2 linked regions of the Homo sapiens genome follow. The protein of the gene in region 1 interacts with the protein of each later gene in a pairwise test. Each region holds a gene or a part of one and is shown on either strand. Other genes may lie near its edges.

What was found. Proteins that work in one complex are often made in the same cells at the same time.
Region 2: the proteins of SHISA4 (region 1) and TSPAN33 interact in binary tests that used the Homo sapiens proteins (3 or more experiments, as listed by UniProt).

The regions. Positions count from the first base shown.
Region 1 is NC_000001.11:201,886,966-201,892,683, reverse strand, and holds SHISA4 (protein shisa-4 precursor), read right to left. Parts: upstream 3,787-5,718; 5' UTR 3,690-3,786; coding exon 3,617-3,689; intron 3,240-3,616; coding exon 3,068-3,239; intron 2,231-3,067; coding exon 2,097-2,230; intron 1,284-2,096; coding exon 1,116-1,283; intron 885-1,115; coding exon 838-884; 3' UTR 97-837; downstream 1-96.
Region 2 is NC_000007.14:129,153,902-129,158,206, reverse strand, and holds part of TSPAN33 (tetraspanin-33), read right to left. Parts: intron 1-4,305. UniProt on the Homo sapiens protein: Part of TspanC8 subgroup, composed of 6 members that interact with the transmembrane metalloprotease ADAM10.

The DNA.
Region 1 (5,718 bases):
TTTGGAGACATGGCCAAGGTCAGAAAGTGGTGGGGCCCAGAATGAATCTAAGGGTACCTGAATGGGAACTGCCTTTGTACAGTTAGCAGTGCCTCAGCTGTTGTAGAGCTGTTGATCCCTAGCAGGGAATATCTGTAGTGCAAACGAGCATCTCTTCAGAGCTGTGGCAAAATTCACCTCATTGTCTTTAGGAAGCCTTTAGGAAGCCAGGAACAGTCCGCCTTGGTCTGCTTGTGGATGGGGGTGAGGATGGTGCTGTGCTCCGATGCTGGTGCTGGCCCTCCCCTACTTTTGGAATATGGAGTGGGCAACAGTCTGGGCCCAGCTGAAGGCGGTGTTCCTGGAAGGTGTGGATGGGTCCAATGATGCGACTGATATGAGTTATGTCTTTACAGCTTTAATCTAGCAGGCCAGAGATGTGGCCAGTGGGGCAGCCAGAGAGGAGGGCTACTGCCAGCTGCTGACGGAACCTCCTCCCTCCCCCCACCCCAGCCCAGAGGGGACAAACAGTAGGGCCCCAGCCTTCCTGGCTGGGATCTTGGGAGCAGAGGGACTATTTGAAAACAGGCACTGTGACCCAGGCTGTCATCTCCCTCCCTTGCCCCCAGTAAAAATAGCCCATAATTCCAAGCCCTCCCCCCAACCCCTCATAGTTCTAGTTCAGCTCCTGTTCCACTTCCCTGGGGCTCTGTCCCCAGTAGGGCCCAGGGCTTGGCTTGGTCTGGGGCCTGGTGGCTGGAGGACTCCTGCCACCCCCAGGACCAGATGCAGGTACAGGATGAGGGCATCTCCCAAGGTTGGCATCACTGAAGGGGCAGCAGAGACATGGCTGGTTCCTCAGGCTCCCGGGTAAGAGGGCTGTGGTGGCATATAGGGAGGAGGAGCTGAAAGCCAAAGAGACAGGATGAGGGTGAGTGGTGGCATAGGTGGACGAAAAGTAACACCCCTGCCCCCGGGGCAGACAGGACCCATAGGGAAGAGTGGGCCTGGAGGTTTCGGGCTAGAGGTGGAGGAAGTCTGGGAGAGGGAATCTGAGAATGAGAGAGGCACAGGGGAGGTCGCAGGGCAAGGGGTGGGGGAAGGCAGCAGCAAGGGGCTCCAGATTGCTTACTTACCTGCAGGGTTGTAGACTGGGGGCCCAGCTGGGTAGAGTGGATATTGGGGAGCAGGACCACTAGGTGGGTATATGAAGCCAGGCTGTGGGGGTGCAGGGCCAGCTTTGGGGTCCTGGGGGTATGGGTATACTGGCTGCACTGGGATGCCTGTCATTGGAATCTCCTGGCCTAGATGGGGGAGAAGGATCAGCATTCAGAGACCCATCTCCTATGGGAAGCCTCCTCCTCCTGCCCAGGAAACCAAGGTAAGCACCCTGGTGCTGGCCTCTGGCAAGCTCCAGGCTGGCCATCTTTGCCTCCCACACCCTGCTTGGCAGAGTTAAGCAGGGAGCTGTGCACGTGGCCCCAGCTGGTCAATCTGTGTTGAGCAAGTTTGCTCCCCTCAGCAGGTTTCAGAGACCTCATGAACCAGGGAGCACAGCCCAGGGAATATCTCACTTGGGCAAGAAGGGGACAGCTCAGGGCTGGTATCCTGTAATCCAGCAGAGCTGCCACTAAGAGGGTCTTCTCCTAGCCCTTCCCTCCCACACTGATCTCCCGTATGGCATCACTGTCCCCATGTCCATCAGGTTGTGGCATATGTGCATCACATGCCAACACTCAGGCACATATTTTGCCATCCACTGGAGCACACTCAATTAATGTTCATCACTACAGACCTGACCCCGTGTACTTACTAAGAGTCATATGTATGCATACACCCACTGCACCCACTATTGTTGACAGACTGCACTCCTGTACACATTTGAATCTTCATGTGTATGCACAGAAATGCACACAAAGTCTGATGTTCCATATATCCCAGGCACATTCTAATATTCACGGGTTTACAAGCATTTTTCTGGGTTTTCATGCTGGCAGGTGTGTGTATACAGAAGCACATACTACTACAGAATTTACCCAATCCATGAACTCTCTGCTGCCCATTATTGGACTTAGCCCAGCCCATCTGAGGCCCTTCTTGCCCAGTACTGGGTGTACCTTCAAATGGGCTCTGGAGCTGCTGGCGCCGGCGGTACAGGTAGCAACAGGAACAGAGGAAGCAGCAGATGGTGGTGGCAACCACAGCAACAAAGAGGATCACAGCTGAGGCGATGCCTGCTATGGTCTTGGGGCTTTAGACAAAGAACAGGTCCTCTCACCTTCCAACACTCATAGGACGGAGTCCTCATTATGCTGGCTCCAACTCCTGGCCAGCAGGGGGGCCATGGCATGCTGAGATTTGGGGTTCCTTGTGGGGCTCTGCCCAGTCCCTGTGAAGGAGATCTTAGAGGACCTCCACTTCCCAGAAGGCTATGCTGCCTGGCTGGCTAGTGTGAAGCATACGGGGATTTGCAGTGCGCCCCCAACCATTGCTTTTATATCTACAACTTAAATGATTAGACATACAGCATAACACTGAAAGGAGCCTTAGAAATAATCTAGAGCCATTTTTTCCAAACCCCGCTTCAATCAGAAGTCTCTATATCTATTTTATATATGATATATTAAAAAAAAGTTTGACAACCACTAATTTGGCAAGCAATGACCCATAGAAGGCAAGTGTCTTCTCCAAGATCACACAGCTAGTAAGAAGTGGACCTGGGAATCAAACCCAAGTCTCCTGCCTTTGTGCCAGAGCTTCTTCCACAAAGCTACACTGTCGTCCGGGTGTTAACCTTGAACCCTCCCTCCCCATGACCTGGCAGGACCAAAGGGAGGGCTCCAGAAAGAACCTGGAAACCCCGGGCCCAGTCAAAGCCTATGAAGGTAACTAACATGCCTTTTCTGGAACTCCCAGGCACCAGCACCTAAGCACCTAGCTCTGCCGCCAGGCTTGAGTCCTGGTGACTCTATTCAGCTAAGAATGTGGAGGTCGACAACGGAGGAGGCAGGAGTCCGGGAGGGAGGAAGAGGAGGCCTCTGGAGAAAAGGATAGAGGAGGTGGTGAGGGTGAGGAGGCAGGAACCCACCTGAAGGCCAGGCAGTGCTTCTGCTGCCTCTCGGTGATAAGCAAGGTCAGGTCCCTGCAGCAGTACCGATGGTAGCAGGTCCCGCAGCAGAAGGTGAAGAACTCGCAGTTAAACCCCGGATGCCAGGAGCCATTCCGGTCCAGGTACCACAGGCAGTCCTCGCCGGCCAGCACTGCGGGCAGGGATTGGGGGTGCCCAGTGGCCACCAGGCCAGTTCATCCCCAGCCGCGCTCGGCCCCACTCCCCCGGCGGTCCCCAGCCTGACGGCTCCCGAACACTGAGGGTTGCCCCTTGTCTCCACCCTGAGGGTCTCAGCCCCAGAGCCCCCGAGGCCTCTGCCTGAAGCTGACCCTGCACCCCGGGATCAGCCTCCCATGGCCCAGCATCCTGGAGCTCCCTCTTCCCGCTTCTTGAGGACCCAGCAACACCCAAGGCTCCCGTGGCAGCCGGAGGGTCTCGGAGAAGCCCCGAGCCCAAGCCCCTCGGATCGGTCCCTCCCCTTCCTCCGCCCCCATCCCACTCCTGCCGCATCTCTCCCCATCCCCTTACCCAGGGGAGCCCCCAGCACCAACAGAGCGATTGCGGTGAGCGGCGCGGCCCGGCGGAGCCCCGCGGGTGGCATGGTGGGGGCTGGGCGCGGCCGGGGTCGGGCCTCCCAGAGAAGGGACCGCAGGACCAAGCCGGCCAGCTGGAGCTGCGGCGGGGCCCAGCCCGCGGCCAGGCTCGGGCTCCTCTTCCGCCTCCTCTGGGGGTGGGACTAAGCGCCCCGCCCGCGCTAACCCAGCCGGCGCGGCTCCGCGCAGCGCCCAGGAGTCCACCCACCAGCGACGCCCACCTAGCCTCTGGAGCTGGGTGCCCCTCACCCAGCAGAGCACTGCCCTGCTCCCCCTGTCCCCGGCTCCGCGGTGGTTCCTCCCATCCGAGCCACCATGGGCACTGCGGGCAGTTGGGCACTGCGGCCAGGGAAGCCTGGCTGTGTCCTGGACCCGCCCCCGGCCTGGGCCCAATCACTATGCTGGACTCCAGAAGCCCTGATCCTGGTGCCACCTCCGAATGCCCAGACACATGGGCCAACCCTGGAGGAGCAGGGCTGGACCTTCACTTGTGGGGGACCTCCTCTGCCGCGTCCAGCCTGGGACATCCTGTCGGGGGCGGAGAGGGAAAGAGGCTGGATGTCACCCCGCCCCCATTCCCAGAACACAAGCACTCATTGAGAGGCATTCAGAGTGGCTTTGTCCCCAGCGGTGCCCACAGGCCTGAACCCTGCCAGCTGCACTGGCTCCCTACGATGGACCCTTCCCCCTTCAAGTGGACAGAGCTGGCATGCACCAGCCCATGGCCTCACTAGCAGGGAAGGCAGGCTGCTGGGGCCACCTGGGGCCCATCCAGTTAAACACTCTTCACAGTGAAAGCCCTTCACAGAGCAAGCCTGTACTGCAATAGCCACCGGAGCATAGGGAGGGCAACAGTTAATTTCAGGTGGGCAACAGTTAATTCCAGGTGGAGACAGTGTTTTAGGATGGGAGAGGTCAGTCTTCACAGGTTTATACTGAGTGCCAGTGACTATGCCCCATGCTACATGAGGTACCCTCCGAGGAACTGCAAATTAAGCCAGGGAGATCATCAAAAGCCTACCTTAATCCCCTGCCATGTACACCCTTTCACACACTTCTGGGCTTCCACATCTACCTCACTGGAATCTTTCCACAACTCCATGAACTAAGCAAGGTTCATCAGTGTTATCAATCGCATTTCACAGACTGAGAAACTAGGACTCATGGAGGTTAAAGAACTTGTTCAAGGTAATACAGCCAGTAAATGGTAGAGGCATCAGGAAGACCCAAATCTAAATCAGGGTTGATCCCCAGCCGCAACAGCAGACAGTGTAGACAGTGAGTATTTCTTGTGTTCTGGGGTGAGAGAATCAGGACAGGTCCATGGAAGGCCCAGTAGAATCTTAGTAGGTTAGGGAAGGACAGCCGAAAGAGGAGCTACCCCATCCTGGGCCCCTGTGGGTGCTGGCACACCTACCCAAGAGAGCTGGAATAGGAGAGGATAGGCTCCTGCCCCAGAAAGTTGCTGGTAGCCTGATGGGCAAGAGTATGTCCTCACGCAGGACACAGTCATAAATGCAGCAGCAGGGACAAAGAGAAACGCCTCTGAATCCAGCACCACCTACTCAGTGTGCCCATTGCCATCCATCTCCTCTTTCCTACACTAAAAGCTCCATGACTGCAGGGACCACGTGGCTGTGTTCAATGTGGCCATCCAGCCCTAGCCATCAGTGTTGTCATTGTTGGTTGAATCATCTTCAGATAAGGGACTGTCTTTCCTGCCCAGAGCTGAATCTCCCATGTGTACCCTTGACCCCTGCTGATTTGTCTCTTCATTATCCCATCTCTTTAGTGTCTTTAGCTTCTCACACCTTACCAGCTTCTTTTCCCTAGGAAATCTCAAGTCTCTCCTATTTAAAGCAAAGCAAAGCAAAGCAAACCAAACCAAACCACATCCTTCCTAAAACTCATCCCTCTCTAGCTACTTTCCTGCTTTTTTCTCCAACTAGCCTTCCTCAAAGTGTATACCCCTAGTTGACACGCCCTCCTCAAAGTGTATACCCCTAGTTGACACTTCCAGCTTGCAATGACACCTAG
Region 2 (4,305 bases), on another chromosome or scaffold:
AGGGAAATTATCCCTGAGGACTCAGTATAATCATAAAAGACCTTCTAAGAAGGAGGCAAGAGGGCCAGAGTCAGAGAAGGAGACGGTGATGGAGGCAGAGGCTGGACTGCTGTGGTGCCACGGATGGAGGAATGAGGGCTGCCTCTAACAGCTGGAGCAGGCAAGGAGGCGAGCTCTTCCTAGCACTTCCCGAAGGAATGCGGGGCTGCTGTATTTTAGCCCAGCGAGATCTGTTTGATTTTAGCCCGGTGAAACCTGTTTTGGCCTTCTGGCCACCAGAAATATAAGAAAATTAATGTGTGTTGTTTTAAGCCACTAAGTTTGCGGTCATTTGTTACAGCAGCAACAGGAAACTAATACACTGTCCAGATCCAATTCATCTGCTGCTATGCAGATGGTACACTGAGGACCCTTAATCCATGCGTGGATATGGTGGAGGGACAAGAGCGTTTATAGCTGAAAGCACATGCTCAACTTTGGCTGCCATTAGAATCGCCTGGGACTTAGGGTTGTTGGGGGAGAGGCTTAAAAAACTGCTAATGCCTAGGCTGCATCCCAAACCAAGTCGATCAGAATCTTTGGCATTGGGACCTAGGCAACAGTATTTCTGAATGTGTTCCAGGTTATTTCAATGTGCAGCCAAGCTTGAGAACCTACAAGCCTAAAGAATAATCAGCCAGGGATCTAGAGCCACAGATACAGGCTACATTAAAATCAAGATTAAGTCTTTAATATTATTATTAATATTTAATATGATCACTAATGATATCTCTCCCCTAAGCTCTCAAATTCTGCATTTCACAGCTTGACCTTGCACACCCCCATTCCTGCCCCCACTTCCCACCCTGGATTCCTCAAAGCTACTGCCATTCCAAAGTTAGTGCTGCTGCTGCTGTTCATAGCATCACGTTTGGAGGTGAACAGAACCTTAGAAATGGGTTTTGGCCACTCACCTCTTTTTATAGATGAGGCCAAAAGAGCGGAAGTAACATTTAACCAAGTGCATATGGGTGCAGTGCACCATCTGGACCAAATCCAACCTCCCAATCTCATTCTGGAACTCTTTCCACTATGCTAGAATTTTCTGTAAAATCCTTATGGCACCTCACAATATCATGAATGACCTCCTTTCACGATGAGGATGGAGATAAAGACATTTCTCTTCTTTGGATAGCTTTTCACATTCCGACTAGAATGAAGCCTGGCTGGAAACTTCTAAGAGCTAGATACAACTTTTAAAATGGCTGAGTCTAGCTTTTAGCAAAATGTATGTTCCTGAAAAGTTGTCAGTCAAATTATATAAAATAATTTGCACACACCAGTACCATTATCCCTATGAAAGGTGAATGATCACCTTGTAATGAAAATAGCCATCCCCTGGGCTCCTTGGAGAAGTGGCTGATTCTAGGATGGGGGCAGGAAAGGCACGAGATGAGCCTAGAGCATCTTGTAGTGCCCCAAAGAAAGGAAATGCTCACGAAGAAACAAAAATGAATTCCCCACATCAGTATCCTCATCAATGTGAGCATCCCAAAGGGACACAGAAGCCAACTGAAAGAGCTCCCAATGGCCAAGGCTAGAACAATTTGAGCACCGAAATAAAGAAATATTGAATTATTACCCAAAATAAAAAATACACATCTGTGGGCCCATGCTGATATAAATAAGTGACTTAATGAATAGCAGAGAAAAGACAAATCTCCTACATAGAAGAATTTCAAATAATTCATGTAGGTACTCCATCCTCAAAGAGGTAGAGCTTAACTCCTTACTCCTTCAGTGCAGACTGTGCATAGTGACTTTCTTCCAAAGAGCACAGTGTGGAACATGGGGAGAAAGGCTAACTCTACAGCGGAGGAACCTGATAAACACTACTTCATCCAGGCGATCGAGGCCAACATCAACAATGATCATGTTGCTGAATCACTTGTATGATATGATATGATGTGATGTGATGAAAATGGCACTTGACTTCTCTGGTCTTCCTCCCAAAAGCCATAACCCCAGTATTACAATGATGAGTAAAACAGCAGGCAAGTTCCAATAAAGGGACATTCTACAAAATACCTGACCAGCACTTCCCAAAACTGTCAAGGTCATTAAAAACAAGGTAAGTCTAGGAAACTGTCACAGCCAAGAGGAACCTAAGGAGACATGACAACTAAATGTAATGTAGGGCAGGACATGGTGGGCCACGCCTGGAATCCCAGAACTTTGGGAGGTCGAGCGGGGAGGATGGTTTGAGCTCAGGAGTTTGAGACCAGCCTAGGCAACGTAGACCTCATCTCTACAAAAAATAAAAATAAAAATAAAAATAATCTGAGTATGGTGGTGCATGCCTGTAGTCCCAGCTACTTGGGAGGCTAAGGTGGGAGGAGGATCGCTTGACCCCAGGAGGTTGAGGCTGCAGTGAGCCATGATTGTGCCACTGCACTCCAGCCTGGGTGACACAGCAAGACCCTGTCTCAAAAAAAAGAAAGAAAAAAGTAATGTAGTATCTTGAATAGGATTCTGGAACAGAAGGATATTAAATAAAAATGAAAAAAAAAACCAATAAAGTGTAGACCATAATGATAATACTATTAATTACAACAAATGTATCATACTAATGTGTTAATAACAGGGAAAACAGAGTATGGGGTATATAGGAACTCTCAATACTATCTTAAAATGTTTTTAATTGATATATGTAAATTGTATGTATTTATGGGATACATATGATATTTTGATACATGTGTACAATGTTTAATGATCAAATCAGGGTATTTAGAACATCCACCACCTTGAACATTTATCATTTGTGTTAGAAGCCTTTTAAATTTATTTTGAAAAATACAATATATTGTTGTTAACTATAGTCACCCTACTGTGCTGTTGAACACTAGAACTTATTCCTTCTATGTGACCATATGTTTGTACCTATGAACCAGCCTCTTTTCATCCTCCTGCCCCTGGATCCCAGCCTCTGGTAACTCATTCTATTCTCTACCTCTATGAGTTTCACTTTTTTAGCCCTCAAATATGAGTGAGAACATGCAATATTTGTCTTTCTGTGCTCAGCTTATTCACTTAACATAATGACCTCCAATTCTGTCTATGTCACGAATGACAGGATTTCATGCTTTTTTATGGCTGAATAATATCCCATTATGTATATGAACCATATTTTCTGTATCCATTCATTTGTAGATGGACACTTAAGGTTATTCCATTTCTTGGCTATTGTGAATAGTGCTGCAGTAACATGGGAGTGCAGATGTCTCTTCAATATATTCATTTCTTTTTCTTTGGATAAACACTCAGTAGTGGGATTGCTGGATTGTCTAGTAGTTCTATTTTTTGTTTTTTGAGAAACGTCCATCTCTGTACTATCTTCTCAATTTTTCTGTAAAATTGTTCTTGAAAAATAGTCTATTACCTCCTCCCACCCCAATTTGTTAGTTTATACTTTTTATTTTATTTTTTGAGACAGAGTTTCGCTCTTGTTGCCCAGGCTGCAGTGCAATGGCGCGATCTCGGCTTACTGCAACCTCCACCTTCCAGGTTCAAGCGATTCTCCTGCCTCAGCCTCCCAAGTAGCTGGGATTACAGGCATGAGCCACCACACCCGGCTAATTTTGTATTTTTAGTAGAGACAGGGTTTCATCATGTTGGCCAGGCTGGTTTCAAACTCCTGACCTCAGGTGATTCACCCGTCTCAGCCTCCCAAAGTGCTGGGATTACAGGCGTGAGCCATCACACCTGGCCTATACATTTTTTAACATCAGATTTTCATAAACTAGGGTTCACTTGCATACAGTTTTACAAACTGTAATCTGGGTGATTTCCCATCAATCACACCAAAACTTAAGGCAGTGGATCTTTTTTTCTTCCCCCCACCAACAGACAAGGTCTCACTCTTGTGTTGCCCAGGCTGGAGGGCAGTGGTACAATCATAGCTCATTGCAGCCTCAACCTCTTGGGCTCAAGAGATTCTCCTGCCTCAGCCTCCTGAGTACAGGCACATGCCATGACACTCACCTGATTTTTAAATTTTTGGTATAGATGTGATCTTGCTAGGTTGCCCAGGCTGGTCTTAAACTCCTGGCATATGGTGATCCTACCTCATTGGTCTCCCAAAGTGCTGGGATTACAGGCATGAGCCACCATGCTTGGCTAAGATAGTGGATCTTAAAATTGTTCAAGTGACAGAGCACTGGGAAGTCACAGTGCTCTGTTGGTGTACATTATAGATTTTGTCATATTCTTCTTCTTTTTTTTTCTTTGAGGCAGTGTCTTGCTTTGTCACCCAGGATGGAGTACAGT